4 separate regions of the Homo sapiens genome follow, and regions 1, 2 and 4 are each linked to region 3. The links come from fine-mapping of genetic effects on gene expression. A gene starts in region 3. Each other region holds a variant in brackets. All regions are shown on one strand. Distances are from middle to middle. Region 1 has its middle 15 kb from the start of LGALS12. Region 2 overlaps RTN3 (reticulon 3). Region 3 holds the start of PLAAT2 (phospholipase A and acyltransferase 2). Region 4 overlaps LGALS12 (galectin 12).

Region 1 (4,165 bases), 43 kb before region 3:
GGTTTCACCATGTTAGCCAGGATGGTCTTGATCTCCTGACCTCGTGATCCGCCCACCTCGGCCTCCCAAAGTGCTGGGATTACAGGCGTGAGCCACCATGCCCAGCCGGACTTGTATGTTAATTGCAGCACTATTCACAATAGCAAAGACATGGAATCAACCTAGGTGCCTGTCAACAGAGGATTGGATGAAGAAAATGTGGTGCATATACACCATGGATTACTACACAGTCATAAAAAAGAATGAAACTATGTCCTTTGCAGCAACATAGATGCAGCTGGAGGCCATTATCCTTAGTGAATTAACAGAAGAACAGAAAACCAAATACCATATATTCTCACTTATAAGTAGGAGCTAAACATTGGGTGGTCATGGACAAAGAGATGGCAATAGACTCTGGGGACTACTAGACTGGAGGGAGAAAAGAAGGAAGGAATGGGAGAAAGGGTTGAAAAACCATTGGGTATTATGCTCACTACCTGAGTGACGGGATAATTCACACCCCAAACCTCAGCTTTACACAATATACAAACCTGCACAGGTACTCTCTGAATCTAAAATAAAAGTTGAAATTATTTTTTAAAAGAAGATAAACCTCAATTTCCACAAATGTTTTATAGGATATTTTTATTAAAATGTATTCTGTGTATAGATTTTTAGGGGCACAGAGGAGCTTGCATCTCTACATTGCTTCTTCCCAATCATATATACAGTATATCCCTCAATTTATTTTGGTCATCCTTTATTTCCTTCTGTCACTGGGAAACCAAGTTCTTTCCTTACTTTGTATTGATAGCCAAGAAAGAATATCCAATTGGAAAAAAAGGCAAGCAGATTTTATTGCTGGTCAGGAACGGAGGAGTGAGCTCTTTTTCTAAAGAACCCCTTCCGAAGGTGATGGAATCCAGGGAACTTTAAGGAATTAGATGTGGGGCGGGGAGGTATGTATGTAAGCATGTACAGGGAGGAACTCCAGATGTGCAGTTACAGATCATAAACATGCTTCTTCATATGAGGTATGTTCAGAAAATGGCAGCAATTTTCTTCTAGGGGTGGGGATTTGATATGGTTTGGCTATGTCCCCACCCAAATCTCATCTTGAATTCCCATGTGTTGTGGGAGGGACGCAGTGGGAGGTAATTGAATCATGGGGGCAAGCCTTTCCCAGGCTGTTCTCGTGATAATGAATAAGTCTCCTGAGATCTGATGGTTTTAAAAAGAGGAGTCCCCCCCTTTTTTTAAAAAAGTTTTTAAACTTCTATTTGCATATTTTTGAAAATTTTGCATTCCAATACTTAAAATCATTTGAACAAAAAAAAAATGGCACTCTGATTAAACAGTATTACAGGCTGCATGACACCTTGGGCCAGCTTGGTTTTACTCTAGATTTCATTGTTGTCCCACCCCACTTTTTCCACCCCACTTCTTCCTTCACCAACATGCACGTTCTTTCCTTTTCTGCCAGCCAGAAAGTCAGATGGGAGTGGCAGGCTTGGCCTTCATTGTCAGTAGTTCTTTGGTGTGAAAGGGGCAGCAGAGTCATTTAAACTTGATCCAACCTCTATGCATCTTACAAAGTTAAACAGCTAAAATAAGTAAAATAAGAAAGCAATGCTTGTGGAATGTACAGTGCATATTGGCAGCACATGCCTCATTACGATTCACCAGCTTGCTTCTCCTGTTCAATCATTTCTTTGGAAGGCAGTGGATTTTTCTCTTGCACTTCTGTCTTCTTCAGTTTCGACTTATCTCTTTGCCTCTGCCATCCATGTAAGATGTGACTTGTTCCTCTTTGCCTTCCACCATGATTGTGAGGCTTCCCCAGCCATGTGGAACTATTAGTCCAATTAAACCTCTTTATTTTGTAAATTGCCTAGTCTCAGATATGTCTTTATCAGCTGCGTGGCCTAATACAGGACTTTAGCATTATAATGATACGTTAATGATCTGAAGGTAACAAGGCATCACCAGCTCAGTTTGCTGGGGTCTT[G/T]CTCTGACCTTATCTTCCTCTAGTAATTGCCAAAGAGTCCTGAGGCTCCAGCAGCCTCCTGGGCCATCTGAAGTTCTCTTAAGCAAACATACCTGTAGGTAAAATGATTTAAAAACCTGTTTAAGGAAGAACAATGAGCTTTCTTAGTTATCTACTGTTTAAGAAAATAACAAGCTTTCTCAGCTATGTCTCCAGGGTTGCTCTGGTAACATAAGATGTGTGTGTTTGTTTTTACTGGGGCATCGCACAACTTTTGTTAGATTTATACTTAGGCACTTTATAGCTTTGTGTGTGATTTGTAAATGCTATCTTTTTAAAAAATTGTACTTACTTGATACTGGTACAAAAATGCACCTGATTTATGTATATTAATCTCGTTCCTAGCAAACTTGCTAAAATTATATATATTTTATTAGTTCAAATAGACAATCTTGCCCTGGCACAGTGGCTTACACCTGTAATCCCAGCGCTTGGGGAGGCCGAGGCAGGTGGATCGCTTGAGGTCAGGAGTTTGAAACCAGCCTTGCCAACATGGCGAAACTCCGTCTCTACTAAAAATACAAAAAATTAGCTGGGCATGGTGGCACATGCCTGTAATCCTGCCTACTCAGGAAGCTGAGGCACAAAAATCTGTTGAACCCAGGAGGCAGAGGTTGCAGTGAGCCGAGATCACACCACTGCACTCCAGGCTGGGGGACAGAGCAAGACTCTGTCTCAATAAATAAACAAACAAACAGATAGGTAATCTTACCACTTGCAAAAAATAATGATTTCTGATTTCTTCCTTTCCAATCTCCCTCTCCCTCTCTGTCTCTCACTCTTCCCCCCACTCCCAACCACATTCCCTCGCTTCCTTCCTCTCTCCCTCATGCTTCCTTTATTATATGACATTGGCCAAGAATTCTTGCACACTGTTGAGTAGCAGTGTGGTTAGCAGGCATCCTTGACCTGTTCCTGACCACAGGGAAATGCAATTAAGATTTCACTATTAAATATGATGATTATCATAGGTTGGGAATAGATACTATTTTTAGGGTAAAGAGATTTTCATTTTTTCTTAGTTTGTTAAGATACACTTTCATTTTTTTCATGAGTGAGTGTCAAGTCTGTCTTCTGCGTTTACTGATATGATCATATTTTTTCTAATCTGTTAATGAGGTAAATTACATTAATAGGCTTTCTAATTTCATGCTATAAGTATCTTTAAATTCCTTAAATTCCTGGAGTAAATGAATTTTTAATGAATACATTGCTGCATTTCATTTACTGATACTACTGTTCTTGCATTAAGTTCATAAATTAGCTTATAATTTTACTTATCCATCCATCAATACTATCATAGCCTTAGATTCTGGATTGTCTCTTTTCTGTGCAAGGTCATCAATTGTTTATATGTACTCTAGGTCTTTAATCCATAGATTCCATCTTCCTTTCTTTTTTTCTTACATTTTATTGTTGGGGATAAAACTGATAACTTTTCCTTATAGAGCTTCTCAGAGTCTGAATTCTGCTGGTTAATCCCTAGGGCATTGTTTAAAATACTCCACTGTCTCCTGTACTTCTTTTCATCTAGAGTTTTGATCAGATTCAGTTTCAATTTTTCAGCAAGAAAACCAAAACTACTATCTTATTCCCTAAATGTTTCTTTTTTAATTTAATTTAATTTTATTTATATATATTTTCTTGAGAGAGTCTCAACTCTGTCACCCAGGCTGGAATGCAGTGGCGCAATCTCAGCTCACTGCAGCCTCCACCTCCCAGGTTCAAGTGATTCTTATGCCTCAGCCTCCTGAGTAGCTGGAATTACAGGTGTGCTCCACCACTCCTGGCTAATTTTTGTATTTTTAGTAGAGATGAGGTATCGCTATGTTAGCCAGGCTGGTCTCAAACTCCTGACCTCAAGTGATCCACCTGCCTCAGGCTCCCACAGTGCTAAGATTCCAGTCATGAGCCACCATGCCCAGCTAAATATTTCTTTTTTTATAGCCTCCTGTTCTTGTTTCCTGAATATATTTTCTCTTCTCTCTTCCATGATATAAATTATAGGGAGCCGAAGACCCGTGGGATGTGACCAACTCAGCATTCCACTGGAGGCTATATGATCAAACAGCAAACTGTTTATCATAAATGCAGGATGTGAGCAAACTCACGACTGCTCCTGCCGACACAATGTTT
Region 2 (4,165 bases), 130 kb after region 3:
CTACCTCAGCCAGGGATCAGGTTAACATCATCAGTTGATAAGTCATGTTGATAGTCTGTACTCTTGATATGCTGTGATGAGCATGGCCCTTGGTATTCTTCCCGAAAAGCCATCACTCCAGTCTAACCATGAGAAAAACATCTGACAAATTCAAATTGAGGGACATTCTGTAAAATATCTGACCAGAGTCTTATTAAAACTGTCAAGAGAAGTCTGAGAAGCTGACAGTCCAGAAAAGGCTAAGGAGACATGATGACAAAATGTGATATGGTATCCTGGATAGGATCTTGGGAAGAGAAAAGGGGCGTTAGGGAAAAATTAAAGGGGATCAAGAAAGAAGGACAGAGTGAGACCTTACTTCTCTAAAAAATAATAAATAGTAAGTAAAAATTACCTTTGTAATATTCTTTTTTATTAGAATACGATGAACATCTCTTAGTGTCAATAAATTCCCATCTACAACCCAGTTGTTAATGACTTATCCTATTGTTTGGATATATGAAACTTAAACGGTCTAATTATTAGACCTTTGTTAAGTTTCCTTTAAAAAAAAAAAAAAAACCTATTTTAAGGAATATTGTGATGAGGCCGGGCCTGGTGGCTCATGCCTGTAATCCTAGCACTTTGGGAGGCTTAGGCGGACAGATCTTGAGGTCAGGAGCAACATGGTGAAACCCCGTCTCTACTAAAAATAGAAAAATTAGCCAGACGTGATGGTGCGTACCTGTAATCCCAGCTACTCAGGAGGCTGAGGCAGGAGAATCACTTGAACCTGGGAGGTGGAGGTTGCAGTGAGCCGAGATCACACCACTGCACTCCAGCCTGGGCAACAAAACAAGACTCTGTCTCAAAAGGAAAAAAAAAGAATATTGTGATGAAGCCAGGTGCGGTGGCTCACGCCTGTAATCCCAGCACTTCGGGAGGCTAAGGTAGGAGGATGGCTTGAGCCCAGGAGTTCAAGACCAGCTTGGATAACATAGTGGGGCCCTGTCACTATTTTTTTTTTTTTTTTTTTGGAGACGGAGTCTTGCTCTGTTGCCCACGTTGGAGTACAGTGGTGCCATCTTGGCTCACTGCAACCTCCACCTCCCGGGTTCAAGCAATTCTCCTGCCTCAGCCTCCCGAGTAGCTGGGATTACAGGTGCCTGCCTCCACACCCAGCTAATTTTTGTATTTTTAGTAGAGACAGGGTTTCACCATGGTTGGCCAGGCTGGTCTCGAACTCCTGACCTCAGGTGATCCACCCTCCTTGGCCTCCCAAAGTGCTGGGATTACAGGCTTGAGCCACCACACCTGGCCCCTGTTGCTATTTTCTTTCTTTCTTTCTTTCTTTCTTTTTTTTTTTTTTTTTTTTTGAGATGGAGTCTTGCTCTGTCGCCCAGGCTGGAGTGCAGTGGCGTGATCTTGGCTCACGGCAAACTCCGCCTCCCGGGTTCACGCCATTCTCCTGCCTCAGCCTCCTGAGTAGCTGGGACTACAGACGCCTGCCACCATACCCGACTAATTTTTTGTATTTTTAGTAGAGATGGGGTTTCACCATGTTAGCCAAGGTGGTCTTGATCTCCTGACCTCGTGATCTGTCCGCCTCGGCCTCCCAAAGTGCTGGGATTACAGGCGTGAGCCATCGCGCCCGGCCCCGTTGCTATTTTAAGAAAATTTTAAAAATAAGAATATCGTGATGAATAATCTTATAGCCACATATTTGCACTGGTTATTTATTGGAATTAGATTTTCAGCAGGTCCACTTATGCTTTTTTTTTATTTTT[A/T]TTTTTTTTTGAGATAGAGCCTCACTCTGTCGCCCAGGCTGGGGTGCAGTGGTTCCATCTCAGCTCACTGCAACCTCCGTGTCCCAGATTCAAGCAATTCTCCTGCCTCAGCCTCCCAAGTCAAGTAGCTGGGATATGTGCCACCACACCCAGCTCATTATTATTATTATTATTATTTTGAGACGAAGTTTCACTCTTATCCCCCAGGCTGGAGTGCAATGGTGCGATACTGGCTCACTGCAACCTCTGCCTCCTGGGTTCAAGCAGTTCTCCTACCTTGGCCTCCCGAGTAGCTGGGATTATGGGCACCTGCCACCACGCCTGGCTAATTTTTGTATTTTTAGTAGAGACAGGGTTTCACTATGTTGGCCAGGCTGTTCTTGAACTCCTTCCCTCAGGTGACCTGCCCGCCTTGGCCTCCCAAAGTGCTGGCATTACAGGCGAGAGCCACCGCGCCCGGCCCACCTGTGCTTTTTCAATCCCATATCTTCTAGCAATTTTGTGGGCTTTGTTCCAGAAAAAATTGTTTCTTTTTTATGTATTTTCAGACTTTTTTCTTCATTGGCTCCTTTCTGTCTTTCTGTAAATATACTTGTCATTTTCATTTCTAAAAAACTTTCCCTCAACGTTGCCTCTCCCTATAGCTGCTGCCCAGTTTTTAGTTCTTCCCTTTATCACCCGTATTTCCCATACTTTTTGTTTTCAGTGTTTTTTAAACTTACCTTCACTCCTCAGTCTTCAGTGTCTGTTCCCTCCCCCTCTACCACTCTCATTTTAGTCATCAATGCGAAATTAATTTCTGTGACCCTTTTCATAGTCTTTTTTTTTTTTTCTTTAAAACAGTGTCTCACTCTTGCCCAGGTGCCATGGCTCAATCTCAGCTCACTGCCACCTCCGCTTCCTGGGCTCAAGTGATCCTTTCAGCTCAGTCCCCCCAAGTAGCTGGGACTACAGGAGCAAGCCAGCATGCCTGGTTAATTTTTGTATTTTTTTGTAGAGATGGGATTTCACCATGTTGCCCAGGCTGGTCTCAAACTGCTGAGGTCAAGCCATCCACCTGCTTTGGCCTCCCAAAGTGCTGGGATTACAGGCATCAGCTACTGCGTCTGATTGTTTTTCATAGTCTTAATTTAGCCATTCAATGGCTTTGACTCTTAACCATTCTCTAAAGCATTCTCCAAATGGCACCATTTTTTCCTTTCTTGACTTCTTTCTGTTTTCTTCACTGGTCTTTCTTTCTTGATCCCCTTTAAATACACATATTTTAAAATTTCTCTTCATGCCATCTGGTAAGATCAAGTGGCCAATCTCAGCATACCTGGGAAACTTAACATGATCTAAGATCACTGAGGAACCATTGACTCCAGATACTGTCTTGTACATGAGGCAAGGCTGGGAGAGGTTGTTCCGACTGACTGCCAGCACCTGCTCCCGAGCTCCTACCACTGGCCCCTTTAAATATTGAGATACCTCAAGATTCTTTTGTAAAACTTCTGTATTTCTTCCTGGATGAAGGTATTCACTGCAGTGGTGTCAGTTCTCACCCAAATGTTAATTCCCAGATATTTATCTACAGCATTTACCTCTCTCCTGAGCCTGTCCCTATTACTGCACTGCCTGTTCAACAGTTGCCACTTATATATGCCTTAGGCAACTTTTTTATATTGAAAGTTAATAATATAAGGGATTCCTGGCCGGGCACAGTGGCTCACGCCTGTAATCCGAACACTTTGGGAGGCCAAGGTGGGCGGGTCACTTTAGGTCAGGAGTTTGAGACCAGCCTGCCAGCATGGTGAAACCCCACTAAAAATACAAAACCCCTACTAAAAATACAAAAATTAGCCGTGTGTGGTAGCATGCACCTGTAATCCCAGCTACTCAGCAGGCTGAGGCATGAGAATCACTTGAACCTGGGAGGCGGAGGTTGCAGTGAGCTGAAATCACACCACTGTACTCCAGCCTGGGCGGGCGACAGAGCTGAGACTCCTTCTCAAAAAAAAAAAAAAGAATTCCTTCTGTGTTCCCAACCATGGCATTTCATTTAGTCCCTCAGTGATCTTTTACTTCTCCAGTCTTTAACATCCAGGCAGATGGTCTCAAGACCTGTCTTCTCTCTTGTCAGCAGTCCTCTCATTCCCATCCTCACTGCCTTAGTGCGAGCCCTTATCTCTTGCCAAGATTATGCAGTAGCTTTTCAGTTCCGTCCATGCTCTACCCTGCTGCCAGAGTTCTTTCTAAAACACGTGATATTGTCACACCCTTACTTAAAAACCTTCAGTGATTCCTTATTACACAAAGGATATAATCCAGATTACATGGCATTTAAAGCCATTTGGAATCTGGCCAATTGTTCCTTCTCCCCAGAATGCCTTTCCCTTCCTTGTTCACCTCATGAACTT
Region 3 (4,165 bases):
CATCACCACTAAAAACTAATTTATGTAACCAAATACCACATGTTCCCCCCCAGAACCTCGAAATTTAAAAAAAAGTAAAGCCTTTGACTAGAGGGGTCAAGAGTCAACTTGACCAAATAAGGGACAATTTGAGCATCAAAAAAAAATAATAAAAATAACTGTACACAAACTGAAACACATCAAATATGTTAAAACCCACGTGTTCATAAGGATATTTTTTAAAAACACTAGGCATCTTTGGAGGATGGAAAAGAATCACCCTATTATTCCAAAAGCTGGTAAATAAAGGAAAAGATTCAAGCATTTCCTAACTGAATTGTCCTCACGGAATGCAATTTAAAACTACAACAAACCCCAAAGCTACAAACCAATACTTGTAAGGTAGCCATATATGTATGCAAAAACAGAAAAATATTTGGAAGAATACGCACCAGGTTGTACAGAGGGGAAAGGCTGTACAGATGGGAAGGATGGTCAAAGGGGACATTAGTTTTTATGCTAATAGTTTTGGTTTTTGGCTTTTGGCTTTTTTTGAGACATGATCTCATTTTGTCACCCAGGCTGGAGTGCAGTGGCACTATCACAGCTCACTGCAGGAAGCCTCAGCCTCCCCAGCTCAAGTGATCCTCCCACCTCAGCCTCCCAAGAAGCTAGGACTATAAGCACATACCATTATCCTTGGCTAATTTTAATATTTTTTGTAGGGATGGGATCTCACTATGTTGCCCAGGCTAGAGTTTCGGTTTTTCAGACAAAGTGAATGTGTTCACGTATTTCTCCTGGAATTAAATACATTCTTTCTTTTTTAAGTCGAAGCTTTAGAGTCAGAGCCTCCTAAGTTCGAATTCCCTCTCTGACTTTTGGGCAGCCCCCTCTCTATACTTACCAGTATATCATTCCTCCTATCCATGAAGTTGGCAGTAATTATGCCTACTTCATAGGATTGCTTATTAACTACCTGGTGTGGATTAAATAAAAGAAGTGTTTAGCATGGTGTCTGGACCCCTGAGCACTTGGGAAATGTGGCTGCTATTGGGTCTAAAGGAAGAAGGAAACTAAGAAGGAATTGGAGGGAAGGAGGGAAAGTAGAGGGACTGGCCCTGCCTGGAGGCGAGGGAGACAGAGCCCTTTCTGACAGCCCCCATTGCCACCCACACAGCTGGAGCCCTTTCCCTGGACCCTCCCTCCCCAGCTAATCCCTCCCACTGAGGATGATGTGACAGAGGAGGCGGCCTGTGGGGTAAACCAAGGGCTGCTCTCCCTGAGCCCACCATTCCTGCCTTCAGGAGGCTTAGCAGAGCCACTGGTAGTTTGGCCAGAGGAGGGCTTGGAAAAGCATAAACGCAAACTTTGGCCACAGTAGAACCAGACCCCATGCGGCAGCTGAGGCTGGGGAGCCTCCAGGGTCATAACCCAGCACCGTGGTTCCTTCCCACAGTGTCTGAGAGAGCCAGACCCCCAGAACTCAGCATGTGCCCATGTGCCCTCCATGCCAGAGCTGTAGACCAACAAGAATACACATAATCATCACTAATAGGGTGGTTGTTCCTCAAATCAAAGCTTTAAAACCGTTTCTGGGGACTTACCAAAGCCATCCTTCCTTCAAGATGATGTCTTGTGTGTTGCTGACTCTGTGTCCAGCCTTAAATTAGCTCTGAGTTTCACTTTCCCTGTGACCCAGCCCATATACAACTATTTCAGAACATAGGCTGGGTGCGGTGGCTCACACCTGTAATCCCAGCACTTTGAGAGGCTGAGGCGGGAGGATCACAAGGTCAGGAGATCGAGACCATCCTGACTAACACGGTGAAACCCCGTCTCTCCTAAAAAATAGAAAAAATTAGCTGGGCATGGTGGTGGGCACCTGTAGTCCCAGCTACTCCAGAGGCCGAGGCAGGAAATGGCGTCAACCCAGTAGGCAGACCTTGCAGCGAGCAGAGGTCGTGCCACTGCACTCTAGCCTGGGCGGCAGGGCGAGACTCAGTCAAAAAAAAAAAAAAAAAAAAAACAGAACATAGATCAAGGTTCATGTAAAATTTTCCCTGTCTTCAAACAGGGGCAGAGCACATATCAAGTAGGCAAGGCGGCATGAAAATCAGCCAGACAGAAGAGGAATCAGAGCTCAGGATATAGATTGAGAAGGACTTAGTGGCAGTGTGGTCAGGGGCACAGCTGACAATCACCAAGTTTCAGGTGGAACAAGCAAGATCCAGTGGTTGTGGGGGCAAGGGAGGATATAGAGACAGAGACCATGGGGGAAAATTTCAAAAAGGAGAGAGGAGCCCCAGAGAGACTGAGATTCATGCCTCCAAATTGGGAATGATGGTTGCCGGGACAGGCAAACATTTCCACCAACCTCAAACCCCATGGCCCTAGAAAAATCGTATTATTGGAGGCACATTCCTCTACCCTGGAAACAGAGTGAGCCTGCTTGGACAGCAGTATAGAAACCACTCCCCTTTCTGCCTCTCACCCACAGTTCAGAAACACTCATTCCACACCAAATGGAAACCAAAACCCAGTACTGGGTGTGTAGAGGTTGCTTCTTTGAGGCACCTGCATGCTTATCTCACCCAAGCTCCAAATAAGTATCTCTTCTGTCATCTACATATAGTTGTCCGGTCCTGAGCAAACTGGACAGGAAGGGGTGGGTGGGGCTGGGGGGAGCTGAGCATCCTCACTGTGGGGCATGGGGGCGAGGACCAATAACTTACCCTCTTCAGGCTATAAACAAACAAACAAACAAAGAGCTTTAGTGTGGGGATGCAGATGGACTGGAGCCAGAACTGGAAAACTCTTTGGGAGCCACAGCAGTTCTGCATGACCAGCTACTCCCTCAGCTCACGTGGTCATGTGGTCTTGCTCCCATGGAGACGGCCTCTCTCAGCACCTCCACTCCATTCTCCTCTGAGTTGCAGTGGGACAATCTTCAAAGTATTCCTTCTGGAGGGAGACAGTAGGGTTGGCTTGGCTAATTATCTCCTGCCCCATTGTCCAGAGACCTCTGGGCCGGTCCCACTCAGGCTTGCTGATCATCTTTTTAGGGGCTGACCTCCAGTCCAGCAATCTCAGTTCTTCCTATGCCTGCCCTCCCCTTGCAACCACATCACACCCCTGTTTCCTGGGGCAGGAGGACTTCCACGTGCTGTCTGCTGAAAGGATCTCAGGTGGGTTGGCACAATGACCAACCAGACCATGCAGGGCGGAGTTGGGGAGGAACATCACTGTACTCATGCTGGGGCTTGTGGCTTTTCACCGAATCCAAGCTGTTCAGAGTGTCAGGAAATTATGTCCAGGAGCTATAGGAAAGGAGAGTCTGCAAATCAAGGGCCAGTGGAATGAGAATTCTGCTGTCTCCCTACTGTTCATGCTGAGCAGGAAAGGTGACAAAGTTCTACTGACAGAGAACAGGGTAGGGCAGGCCACACCCAGCCTGCTGGTAAGCTCTAGGCCTACAGCCTGGAATACTTACATTTTTGTTCACATGCACGCTCTCTATGTTTGTTTAATTGTATAAAAGGCTATAAAAGGAAAGATAAGCCTCCATTCTCCCCACCTCCAGCCTCCAGCCTCCAGCAACCCAGTTCCCCTTTCTAGAGGCAATGTTATCTTTCTATGTACATGCCAGGAATATCTTGGGCTACATATAATTTTAATGGGCTTTGGCCGGGCACAGTGGCTGATGCCTGTAATCCCAGCACTTTTGGAGGCCAAGGTGGGTGAATCACTTGGGTCAGAAGTTCGAGACCAGCCTAGCCAACATGGCAAAACCCCGTCTCTACTAAAAATACAAAAATTAGCTGGGCTTGGTGGCGCACGCCTGTAGTCCAGCTGCTCGGGAAGCTGAGGCAGGAGAATCTATTGAACCTGGGATGCAGAGGTTGCAGTGAGCCAAGATCACGCCACTGCCCTCCAGCCTGGGTTACAGAGTGAGACTATGTCTCAGAAATAAATAAATAAATAAATAAAGGATTTTATTAAATCTTATATCCATATAGAAGAATAATTGCAACATAAGTATAAAACACTAGAAATAATAACAAAACAGGTACCAATAAACCTAGTTGAAGAAATAGAAAATAACCAATTTCTTAAATAAGCCCTGTGTCCCACAAAAACCTGTCCACAGATGTTCATAGCAGCCGTGGTGGTTAATTTGTTGTGT
Region 4 (4,165 bases), 48 kb before region 3:
TCCCAACATTGGGCCCTGGCCACCTCCTTCCCAAAGTTGGAAACTTACGGGGCCTCCTCCTGTAAGGATCTACCAATAGCCCTTGAAAGGCCTGTCCAGGGCGGCCTTTTCCCCTACCTTACCTGCCTCTGCATCCCATCAGGATGCCGCGCCTTCTCCAGCATAGCTCTTCAAGAAGGAAACTTGGGAAGTTCCCAAGACATAAAAATAATCTGGGCCGGGCGCGGTGGCTCAAGCCTGTAATCCCAGCACTTTGGGAGGCCAAGGTGGGCAGATCACAAGGTCAAGAGATCGAGACCACCCTGGCCAACATAGTGAAACCCCATCTCTACTAAAAATACAAAAATTAGCTGGGCGGTGCGGGCATGCGCCTGTAGTCCCAGCTACTCCGGAGGCTGAGGCAGGAGAACTGCTTGAACCTGGGAGGAAGAGGTTGCAGTGAGCCGAGATCGTGCCACTGCACTCCAGCTTGGTGACAGAGCAAGACTCTGTCTCAAAAAAATAAAATAAAATAAAGAAAAATAATATAATCCGGTTGCCCTATTTGAGAGGCAGGTGCCAGATCCCCCCACCCCCAAATCTAGAGTCATGAATCCTAGTTCACATCCTAACCTAAGGCCCTACCACTATTACTAGTAACAGAGAAGTCATTTAACTTCTTGTCCTCATCACTTAAATGGGCTGACAAACCTCACAGCACAGAATTTGTGAGGATTAAGGAAAGGCAAACTAGCTTCTGTAAAACACCTACTGTGTGCTAGGAATTGCTAGTTTTCACATACATTATCTCCTTTGTTCCTTTTTTTTTTTGGCTCTATGAGGTAGAGATTGTATTATATAGCAATATTTTTAAACAATAGGTATCATCTGAATGCTTATTACGTTCCAGGTGCTATTCTAAATAAGCATTTTTTTATGTATTCATTTAATTCTTACAACAATGCCACAGGCAGGTACAGGGCAGTTATGTTATCGTCACATTACAGATGAGGAAACTGAGGCACAGAGAGATTAAGAGTCTTGCCCAAGGTCACAGGACTAGAAAGTAGCAGAGCCAGGGTTGAATCGGGACTGCCTGACTCTAACCACTATGCTGTTTGGAAAACATTTAAGATAATACCTGGCACTTAGTTAGCATTCAATAAATGTTAGCTGTAGCTATCATCATCATAATCATCCCCATTTTCAGGAGGAGAAACTGAAGCTCAGGCTAGGCAATTTTCACACACTTCCCTCCCACCCCCATCCTCCTGTAGTCATAGATGGCAACCCTGGAGGTCAATCTCAAGTTCATCTAGAACTCGTGTTCTTTCCACTGTTCTGAGCATTCAGCCATGAGGCTGTCATAGGCCCTCAGTGCTTGTTTCTGGAGGCTGAAGCAGCTCAACCTTCCATCCACTCCCTGACCTCCATCCTTCCCCTGGGGGCTGAGCAGCGGCCTATGGGCAATGGGCGCTGATTCCTTCTCCTTCCTCCTGCTTCCTGCAGTTTTACTGTGAGCCTGAGGGACCAGGCTGCCCATGCTCCTGTGACACTCAGGGCCTCCTTCGCAGACAGAACTCTGGCCTGGATCTCCCGCTGGGGGCAGAAGAAACTGATCTCAGCCCCCTTCCTCTTTTACCCCCAGAGATTCTTTGAGGTAGGTCAGAGCCAAATGATTACATCCCTTCAGG[C/G]TGGAGCACAGAGCTGAAGTCCCATAATGACCTGGGAGATGCTGGGGCAGGTGTGCAGGACAGATGTTATGGGGTGGGAGGCCAGAGCCAGCAGAGCACAGCGAATGTCTGTACAGCAGTCCTCAACGCTCCACTCTGATGCCAGGGATCCCATGGCCAGAAACTCAATTGATGCAGGTGGGGGGGGGCCCAGGCATCAGCTTTATTAAAAAGCTCCCCTAATGATTCCGACGTGCAGAACCACTCCTCTACAGGAAGCAGCCCCAGTTACAGGTGGTGAAACTGAGGCCCAAGGCTGGGAAGATCCTTGTCAAAGACCACAGTGGGCTGGTGACAAGCCGGGCCCCTTATCCTGTTCTTTTCCAGCACTGTACTGGGTGCCCCCTGGGTCCAGTCTTCGTGTCCTATGAGAGGAGGAGGGTCTCACTGGAGAGAGCGTCAGGCAGACAAGGGAAAGTCTGGCTGGAAGCTGCAACCCCCTCATGTCCTCCTTTCCCAGGTGCTGCTCCTGTTCCAGGAGGGAGGGCTGAAGCTGGCGCTCAATGGGCAGGGGCTGGGGGCCACCAGCATGAACCAGCAGGCCCTGGAGCAGCTGCGGGAGCTCCGGATCAGTGGAAGTGTCCAGCTCTACTGTGTCCACTCCTGAGGATGGTTCCAGGGAAATACCGCCAGAAAACAAGAAGGTCAGCCCACTCCCAGGGCCCCACTCTCCTCCCCTCATTAAACCATCCACCTGACACCAGCACATCAGGCCTGGTTCACCTCTGGGGTCACGAGACTGAGTCTACAGGAGCTTTGGGCCTGAGGGAAGGCACAAGAGTGCAAAGGTTCCTCGAACTCTGCACCTTCCTCCACCAGGAGCCTGGGATATGGCTCCATCTGCCTTCAGGGCCTGGACTGCACTCACAGAGGCAAGTGTTGTAGACTAACAAAGATACTCCAAAATACAATGGCTTAAAGAATGTGGTCATTTATTCTTTATTATTTATTTATTTGTGGTCAAATAAATAAATAAGGTTATTTATTTATTTCGTTCTCATCTAGCAATTCTAGAGACAATGGTCCAGCTTAGCAGGGCAGCTCTGCTCCCTGGAGACATTCAGGGTCTGTCCTAGCCATTGTTCCACCACCCCCAGGGCATCATCATTGTCTCTGTGGCCCAAGCTCAGCTGCCACCCTATCTTGGCCTCACCCACTGAGAAGGCTAGTAGTGGCAGTGGACAAGACCCACCTGATATCATAAGCCCCAGACATGGGTCCGACACACACCAGCTACAGTCACATTTCATCTGCAGGCACTCAGTCTCGGTCACACTACCTGCAAGGGAGGCTGGAAATGTTCTTCAGTGGGACACATAAGACCAGCCACATGAAATAGAGTAGTCATAAAATAACAGAATAGTTTTATTCTATTACTATAAAAAACAGGGAGAATGGATTTTGGTGGATAGCCACAGTCTCTGAGACAAGTAGATGCTGTTAATATCCTCATTTTATAACATAAGAAACTGACGCACAGAAAGGCTAATTTGCCAAGATCACACAGTGAGTAAGTCATGGGATTAGAACCCAGGGATTCTGTCTGCAGAGTTTGCGGCTCTTAACCATAAACCATTATCTAGAGTACACAGGCACACTAGAGCTTCCAGATAAAGATGGACATCGGAGCTGGAGGCTTGAGAGGAATCAAAGAACCTTGCAAGTCGAAAAGTACAGACAAGACAAACGAAGGACCACCACCAAGGAAAGAGCAAGATTAAATGAGAAATAATTTAAGAATTATATATAACTGTATATAATATATACCATATATACATATATATAGCATAGTATACATTATACAGTAATATATGTGCCATGGTCTGAATGTTTGTGTCCTCCCAACTAAAATTTATATGTTGAAATCCTAGCACCCAAGGAAATGGTGTTTGGAGGTGGGGACTTTGGAGGGTGATTAGGTCATGAAGGTGGAGCCTTCATGAATGGGATTAGTGCCCTTATAAAAGAGACTCCAGGCCGGGCGAGGTGGCTCACGCCTGTAATCCCAGCACTTTGGGAGGCCAAGGCAGGCAGATCACCTGAAGTCAGGAGTTCGACACCAGCCTGGCCAACATGGCAAAACCCCGTTTCTACTAAAAACACAAAAATTAGCTGCGCATGGTGGCACACGCCCGTAATCCCAGCTACTCAGGAGGCTGAGGCAGGAGAATCGCTTGAACCCGGGAGGCAGAGATTGCATTGAGCCAACATCATACCACTGCACTCCAGCCTGTGTGACAGAGCCAGACTCTGTCTCAAAAAAAAAATATATATATATAAATAAAATAAAAGAGACTCCAGAGAGCTCCCTCACCCCTACCACCATGTGAGATTACAGCAAGAAAACAGGCGTTTATGAAATGGGAAGCAGGCCTTCACCAGAAACAAAATCTGCCAGTGCTTTGCTCTTGAATTTTCCAGCCTCCAGAACTGTCAACAATAAATTTGTTGTT

The links.
Region 1: its variant is fine-mapped to the expression of PLAAT2 in rectum (CEDAR, PIP 0.95).
Region 2: its variant is fine-mapped to the expression of PLAAT2 in whole blood (INTERVAL, PIP 0.99).
Region 4: its variant is fine-mapped to the expression of PLAAT2 in kidney cortex (GTEx, PIP 0.99).

What each region holds. Positions count from the first base shown.
Region 1 is chr11:63,519,187-63,523,351 of GRCh38, forward strand. It overlaps the pseudogene TMSB4XP5. Among named protein-coding and RNA genes, the nearest start is that of LGALS12, 15 kb to the left of the region's middle. The variant G/T (reference allele first, on the strand shown) is at 1,991.
Region 2 is chr11:63,695,548-63,699,712 of GRCh38, forward strand. The region is part of intron 1 of RTN3 (reticulon 3); the gene reads left to right. Among named protein-coding and RNA genes, the nearest start is that of RTN3, 16 kb to the left of the region's middle. The variant A/T (reference allele first, on the strand shown) is at 1,767.
Region 3 is chr11:63,561,730-63,565,894 of GRCh38, forward strand. PLAAT2 (phospholipase A and acyltransferase 2) reads right to left here and starts at 1,650. Exons shown (of 4, transcript NM_017878.2): 1 at 1,587-1,650. The coding sequence starts at 1,595. RefSeq lists a silencer at 2,607-2,686.
Region 4 is chr11:63,514,075-63,518,239 of GRCh38, forward strand. It overlaps LGALS12 (galectin 12), which reads left to right. Exons shown (of 9, transcript NM_033101.4): 8 at 1,489-1,639; 9 at 2,173-2,698. The coding sequence ends at 2,319. Among named protein-coding and RNA genes, the nearest start is that of LGALS12, 10 kb to the left of the region's middle. The variant C/G (reference allele first, on the strand shown) is at 1,674.